2 linked regions of the Homo sapiens genome follow. The protein of the gene in region 1 purifies or fractionates together with the protein of each later gene. This does not show direct contact. Each region holds a gene or a part of one and is shown on either strand. Other genes may lie near its edges.

Region 1 (3,903 bases):
AGGGTGATTAAAAAAAAGTTCCAAAATCAATTGTGGTGATGTTTCCACAACGTTGTGAATACACTAAGAACCACTGAATTGTACCCTTTATTTATTATTTTTTTTCTTGAGACAGAGTCTCTCTCTGTCACCCAGCCTGGAGTGCAGTGGCGCGATCTCGGCTCACCGCAACCTCCAGCTCCTGGGTTCAAGCATATCTCCTGCCTCAGCCTCCCGAGTAGTGGGGACTACAGGTGCGCACCACCATTCTTGGCTGATTTTTTTTTTTTTTTTTTTTGAGACAGAGTTTCGCTCTGTCACCCAGGCTGGAGTGCAGCGGCGCGATCTCGGCTCACTGCAATCTCCGCCTCCCGGTTTTAAGCAATTCTCCCACCTCAGCCTGAGTACCTGGGATTACAGGAGTGCGCCACCACACCCAGCTAATTTTTGTGTGTGTTTTTTTAGTAAAGACGGGGTTTCACCATATTGGCCAGGCTGGTCTCGAACTACTGACCTTGTGATCCGCCTGCCTGGGCCTCCCAAAGCACTGGGATTACAGGCATGAATCACCACGCCCGGCCTAATTTTTGCATTTTTTTAGTACAGACGGGGTTTCACCACGTTGGCCAGGCTGGTCTTGAATGCCTGACCTCAAGTGATCTGCCTGCCTCGGCCTCCCAAAGTGCTGGGCTTACAGGCGTGAGCCACTGCGCCTGGCTGTACACTCTAAATGGATGAACTGTACAGAATATCTCAATAAAAACTGTTGGGGGAAAAAAAAAAACCTGCCTCAGGCCATCGGCCATGGCAGGGACAGAGCCAGGGCCAGGCTCAGGCCTTGCACTATGTCCCAGCGTCCGCAGAGCTGATGAGATGCCGGCCAGCCTGGCAGAGCTGAAGCTGCCAAGGCTCAGCCCTGGGGCACTCACCCAGGTTACCCCTTCCCCATCCCTCACCACCAACAGCTCTAAGCTAAGTGAGCCCCTCCACAGTGGGGACGGGATAGGAGCAGCACCAAGCCAGCATCTGTAGAAAATCCATGGACCCGCACTTGCAGAGACACTTGTCTCGGCTCCACATCAAGACCAAGTAAAGAATTCTTATTATTCCGACAGAGTCTCATGTGGAAGAGGGGCCCAGAGGGGTGGAGCCACATGGCTAGCAAGAGGCTTCCAGTGTGCCCTGGTCTCTAAACAACAGGCAGAAATTCTCACACTGAGGCCCACCGTTCACTTCTAAGATACCTGATTAAAGGGCACAGGCATGGCCCTCGGCCCCCAAACCCCCTACCCCTGGTACAGACTAACCATCTGCTTCGGGGAAAAGGTCAGGCTTCCCCTCCAAACCGAGCTCCCCAGACAACTGGGGCAGGGGCAGCCAGAATGAGACGGGAGGGTGCTCGCTGGTGCACGGCATCCAAGAACTTCGGCCCTGAGAACCCAGGCAGCGCCCTGAACTCTCCATCTCAAGTGGCTCCTCTGAAAATCAGAATAGACTGAAAGGCTCAAATGCAATTGAGTGGTCGACACTCTACAGACCTCAATTATCAGGCTCTAAACAGAATGAAGATGCAAATATGGAAGAACAGAAAAAAAGAGAAAAAAACTTTCCCCCACCACAACCTCTGAATGCACTATGGCCTGAAGCCCTCTCAGTCCCCTCTCCCAACCTAATGAAGCCTGCTAGAATCCCTGCGAATGGAGCAGGAGAGTGGGTTTCACTCGCACTCTCCTGGTGAACCTGGGCAGGCGCTTGATTTCTCTGAGTCTCATTTCCTCATCCGTGAAAAGGAGACACAGCCCACCAGGGCGGGCTGCTGTGAAAAGGCATTGAGCTAAAGCAGGTGGCCGTGACACAGCAGGAGCTCAGCAGGTGCAAGTCTCTTCCGGTCCAACCCTGAGGCCACGTCCAGATGCTTTCTGGCAGGACAGGTAGGGGACCGGTCACTACCCCAAAGGTGATGGTGCTAAACACAGAGGAGCAGGAGAAAGACTCTACCCATTTGCCTAAGTGACTCAAGTACTTTTCCTCAGACCATTCGGATACTACGGCAGGCGCCATGCACCCCGCCACCCCCATTCTTTGCAACTTTTAGCAACTTCAAGAAAGCGGAAGTGACTACCACTAGTTTTTAGCTACCGTTTGAAAACCATGAGTCTGGCTGCAAACGGAAGAAGGGGAAATTGTAAATGAGAAAGGAAGCCATTAAAAACGAAAACTACCTCTGCCGCTCTCCCTCCACCAGCTCTGCACTATTGCCTCTGGTTTCTGACTTAGCTGTGGTGTTTTAGGGCCTTCAACACCAGCCACCCCTCAAGGGCCTGCCAGCCCCTTCCTTCCCCTGCTTGGACAGGCACTAACTGCGGCTCCCACAGAGCCATCCCCACTGCTGCACGTATCCGCCCAAGCACAGCTCTGCCGCCAGGGAACCGGTGGGCCCATGCTTCATCTGTCACCCCTTCCCAACCTGCGCTGACCCACGAGCACCCAGAAATGGAGGTCATGGGCACAGATGCCTCAGGGGGCCTCCAGAAACAGCTGCCTGAGCTGTCCCAATGCTCAGCAGAAGCTCCAACGCCTGGCCCCCTGGCCGGTACCCTAGGAAGGGAAAGAGCCTGCTACCAGCAGCAGGCTGGCCAGCACCCAGCTCCTTAAAGGGCCCAGAGTCCGGAGGACAGCAAGACCATCTCCCTCTAATGTCCCCCAAGCCTCTGTCAGCTCTCAGCCAAATCTGAAAGGGGGCTGGGAACACCCAATTCCAGGGATGCAGTGACAGTAATGGCAACCCCACCACCTCTGGGCAGGACCTACGGTGTGTGCCGGCTGCAGAATCCGGCATCACCCACCCAGCAAGGAGGAACCAGGGACACCAATTTGATAGAAAGGGCCACTGGGGCCAGAGGAGAAGGGGGAGCGGCCCAAGGCCCAACAAGATGATGAGCTAGGGCTTTCCTGTGGCTTGGGAAAGCCTTGGGGAGGGTCCCCACTTAAAGAGAACCCTCAGTGCCTCCCCCTCTGGCCCCAGAAGCACACCCTCCCAAGGGAGCTAGCAGCCCTGGTCCAACCCCAGAGGATGGAATAACTAGGAAACAGAAGAGTCTAGAAACACTGGCCAAGGACTGGGACGGGGACTTGAACATCCACATTCAAATCGTCTCCTGAACTGGCCACAGGTTTAAAGGAAAGAAAGGAAAAGACCAATGAACGGATTTGAAATAGCTCTTTGGAAAAACAGAAAGGGGCAGAGTTAGGGTTACAGTGTGATCCAAAGTCAGAAAAGCTTGCATTCCCATTTGACCTCCCCAAACTGAAATCTCTGTGGCCTAGACCAAGGATCTCACCCCACCGAGCCCCAGTTTCCTTATCCGGGAAATACCTCACAGATGGGGTTACTATAAGGCAGCACTCTCTGGAGAAGGACCCACAAAACTGGTGTGCAAAGGGAAAACCACGGTTTGGCATGGAAAGGCAGGTGAGCCCCATCAAGCCGGGTGCCGAGTGATTCCCACTCTGGCAAGGCCCCTCACTCTCACCAAAGCTCTCAGGCCTCTCTCACCTCATCTCTTGCTACCTCCCGCGTGGGCGTCACACCTGACTGCCCTCAGCCGGGGCTGGGCTGCTCCCTCCTCCTTCCCGGAGCTCTTCGAGTCTGACTAGCTCCTCCTGGGTCCTTCAGGCCCCCACACAGACACCACTTCCTCCAGGGAGCCTCCCCCCCGCATCTGTGTTAGAGGCCTGCTCCACGCCGCTTCCACAGCATCCCGCAGTCACCCTGGAACAGCATGTGAGCCTCGGCTCTGTGACAGGATGTACCTGTTCAGTCATCTGCCTCCCCCTGAAACATGCCGACTTCCCAGGATCTAGCATAAGGCCAGGCCCAACTAAAGCTACTTGTTGAATTAATGAAAACTGAAGCCAGAGAAA
Region 2 (3,903 bases), on another chromosome or scaffold:
TCTTTTCAGTTCTCCAACCAGTATCTCAATATCCTTCAAGTCAGTTGACTGATTGCATTTGGGCTCAAATCCCCAATGGCCCAATTTCTTTCGGGCTCCATGGACCCTTATGTCCACCCCAGGTCCATTCACCACTGCAGGCCACCTTACCTGTGGGGGGTTGAAACTCAAGTACAGGGCATCGCCTGCGGGGAGGCTGCGCCGCCGAGGATCCACAGGTCTGCGGGCCCAGGGGGCCTCAGCTGGGAGTGGCTCGGTCTGGCCCAGGGCGGCCAGCTGCCTTCGAGCCTCTTCGGCCTCACGCTCCAGCAGTGCCCGGGCCTGCTCACTCTCCCGGAGCCGGGCCTCCAGGCTGCCAGCTTCGGTTGCCCGTTCTTCACCTAGCCGCCGGCAGCGCCGTAGCTCCTCCTGCAGCAGCGCATGTTGCCGCTGCAGTAATGCCAGTTCCGTGGCCTGCTTTTCAGGGGCCACAGGGGCAGCCCCAGCCCTGCCAGCCTCCCCATCCCGAGAGTTGGCTCGGCACAGCTTCTCCCGCCGCTCAGGGCCCTCAGGGAACCGGGCTTCCATCAGAGTGTCCTGCTGGGCCACAGCTGCCTGGGAGTAGAATGCAGGCAGAAGGGTTTATCAGAACCCCTGTGCTCTTCTACCCCTCGCCTTCACCCTCCAAGGCCCAGATCATCGCTCCTGGAGAGCTTGGATTGGGAGGGTATTTAGAAAGGCCTGTTGGGATGACCATGCCCCACCTAAACAGGCATCTCTAGCCTGGCTCCTCCCCTTCCCCATTCAAGCCCTTGTCCTACTGACCTGTAGGCCATGTAGAAGTCCATAGAGATTGACCAATCGCTGTAACGCCTCCTGAGGACAGACAGGGTGGGAACAGGGCCCCAGCTTTAGGATGGGAGAACTGCCCAAAAGTTGAACAAGGGTGGGTGTGGGGACAGTAGGATCCGGAGACATACTTGAATGTAGACGCTTTCCCCACCCCACTCCAAACTGGGCTCTAACTACTCAGACTAAGAACATCCTCCCTTCAGTCTCCTATACCATCAATTCCCATCTCACCTCTTGCGGTGATCTCAGCTGATTTCCATTTCGATCCTGCAGAAATGGGCAAGAATGGGGAGTCAGCAGGCACACAAATCCTGGGTGCCTGCCCCTGACAGCTTTGTGTTGAGGATCCAGAGGCTGGCTGTCCCTCTCCCACCCTCTTGCCAAGTCCCAGAACCTCTTGAGGACCTACCCTCTGGCTAGAGTCTGAGTCAGCTCTGCAGAGTTCAATGGAGCCATTGAAGGTTCTGGCCTCACCATCTGTTGAGAAGGAGAAAAGGATGGCTGAGCTCACTTCCCTGGGGCCCTGATACCACTTGATCCCTGGTACCACTCTACTAACTTTGGCCCCTCCCACCTACTACCTTGGTCCCCTGCCCTGGTACTCACTGGCAGTGACCCCAGGACTCGTGTTACCACCGCTGTCTGGTTCCAAGGGCAGGGCTGGCTCTCGGGGTGTCAAGAGCAGTTCCACTCCTGGCCCCACCAGCAGGTCTTTCAGACCCTCCACTGTGGGGAAAGAGGAAGAGGTGAGAACAGGAATGACACAGGACCCTGAGGGGAATGCCATTCACCCCCACATGTGGGACACTTGGGCATCTGGGGGAATGCCCCCTGCACTGGCAGTGGGGTTTCACTCACACAACCACTGATGAGGTAAAGGGCAGTAAATGCCTACGAGGCAGCAGAGTCCATGCAGCATGGACGATATGGAGCAGCAGCAAGGACCACACCTCCTCCCCTGCCTTTCCCAGGAACTGGCCCAGAAGAGGCACTCAGGGCCGTTTATGGTTTATAGGGTTGGCATCCCACTTGTCTGTGTTTGTCCATGTCTAGTCACATGTCCACATTCTGTGACGGTGAGTGCTTGAGCCTGGACTCTTCCCTGGGAGCTCCCTCACCCTCACGGATGGCATCCTGCAGCAGCCGCTCGCCACGAGGGGACTCAAGGGACTCAGAGCGGAAAAGGCCCCTGGGCAGGGTGGGCAGGGCCATCCCACTGCCACCATCCTCTTCGGCCTGGAAATGGGTCATCTCAGCAAACAGCCCGACCTTCTCTCGCAGCAGCTCCACCAGTGCCCGGTCCTTCTGCTGCAACTCCACTGCAGATAAGGAACAAGTGAGGACATGAGAGGACGTAGGGGTATGCAAGAGCGCCAGTAGAGGACAGCCCTAGGGGAGAGGGGTAGGGTGGGGCAGTGTGGCAGACTTAATTTTGTTATTTTGGCATTTATAAAAAAGAAAAAGCTTTCTGTTGGTCAGGTGTAGTGGCTCACACCTGTAATCCCAGCACTTTGGGAGGCCAAGGCAGGTGGATCGCTTGAGGCCAGGAGTTCAAGACCAGCCTGGCTAACATGGCAAAACCCTGTCTCTACTTAAAATACAAAAATTAGCCAGGTGTGGTGGCACGCGCCTGTAGTCCCAGCTACTCAGGAGGCTGAGGCACAAGAATCGCTTGAACCCAGGAGGCAGAGGTTGCAGTGAGGCCGAGATCACACCACTGCACTCCAGCCTGGGCGACACAGCAAGACTCTGTCTCAAAAAAAAAAAAAAAAGATTTGTGGAAGGGGTTGCAGGTTGTCCAACAGTGTTCATTCTTTCCATCTTCCTTTAATGAGAAAATGCATAGAAGTTTCATCTGGGCACACATGGCTGCCCAGTTAACAACTATGTTTTCCAGCCTGACTTGCACGTGACTATATTGCTACATGACTACATTCTGGCCAATGGATATGAGCATCTTCCAGATCTGCTCTTAAAAGAAATGGGTATAGGCTGGGCATGGCAGGTGGATCACTTGAGGCCAGGAGTTCGAGACCAGCCTGGCCAACATGGTGAAACCCTATCTCTACTAAAAATACAAAAATTAGCCAGGAGTGGTGGTGGATGCCTGTAATCCCAGCTCCTTGGGAGGCTGAGGCAGGAGAATCACTTGAACGTGGGAGATGGAGGTTGCAGTGAGTCGAGATCACGCCACGCCACTGCACTCCACCCTGGGCGACAGAGCAAGACCCTGTCTCAAAAAAAAAAAAAAAAAAAAGAAAGAAAGAAAAAGAAAAAAGGGTATAAACTCTATTCCTTTACTCCTCCTTGCTAGGTGTGATACAGGTGTGACAGTGGGAGCTGGAGTAGCCACTTCAGACATGACATAGAGATGAAAACTTCATGTTAAAGATGGCAGAGCTGCACCACTACTCTGCACTTCCCACTTTGAACTGTTATGTTGACAGCAATAATATTCTACCTTGTTGGGGTTTTTTTTGTTGTTGTTGTTACCCAGACTGGAGTGCAGTGGTGCAATTATAGTGTATTACAGCCTTGAACTCCTGGGCTCAAACAATCCGCCCACCTCAGCCTCCCGAGTAGCCAGGACTACAGGTGTGTACCATCATGCCTAGCTATTTTTTTTTTTTTAATTTTTTGTAGAGACAGGGTCTTGCTATGTATGTTTTGTTGCCCAGACTGGTCTCGAACTCCTGACCTCAAGAGATCCTCCTGTCTCCCAAATCCTTCTGGGATTAAAGGCGTGAGCCACTGCATCCAGCCAATCTACTTCTTTTTTTTTTTTTTTTTTTGAGATGGAGTCTCCCTCTGTTGCCCAGGCTGGAGTGCAGTGGCGTGATCTCAGCTCACTGCAAGCTCCGCCTCCCAGGTTCATGCCATTCTCCTACCTCACTCTCCTGAGTAGCTGGGACTACAGGCACCCGCCACCACCCCCGACTAATTTTTTTTTTGTATTTTTTAGTAGAGACGGGGTTTCACCGTGTTAGCCAGGATGGTCTCAATCTCCTGACCTCGTGATCCGCCCACCTCGGCCTCCCAAAGTGCTGGGATTACAGGCGTGAGCCACCGCGC

The links.
Region 2: the proteins of PPP6R1 (region 1) and ARHGEF2 purify together in Homo sapiens (affinity purification with western blotting; 2 studies listed by BioGRID and IntAct, with this or other methods). This does not show direct contact.

The regions. Positions count from the first base shown.
Region 1 is NC_000019.10:55,252,140-55,256,042, forward strand, and holds part of PPP6R1 (serine/threonine-protein phosphatase 6 regulatory subunit 1), read right to left. Parts: intron 3,635-3,903; exon of another isoform or gene 3,536-3,634; intron 1,453-3,535; exon of another isoform or gene 1,290-1,452; coding exon of another isoform or gene 1,287-1,289; intron 1-1,286. UniProt on the Homo sapiens protein: Regulatory subunit of protein phosphatase 6 (PP6). May function as a scaffolding PP6 subunit. Involved in the PP6-mediated dephosphorylation of NFKBIE opposing its degradation in response to TNF-alpha.
Region 2 is NC_000001.11:155,950,679-155,954,581, forward strand, and holds part of ARHGEF2 (rho guanine nucleotide exchange factor 2), read right to left. Parts: intron 2,151-3,903; coding exon 1,950-2,150; intron 1,558-1,949; coding exon 1,438-1,557; intron 1,309-1,437; coding exon 1,241-1,308; intron 1,099-1,240; coding exon 1,063-1,098; intron 856-1,062; coding exon 805-855; intron 659-804; exon of another isoform or gene 595-658; coding exon 151-594; intron 1-150. UniProt on the Homo sapiens protein: Activates Rho-GTPases by promoting the exchange of GDP for GTP.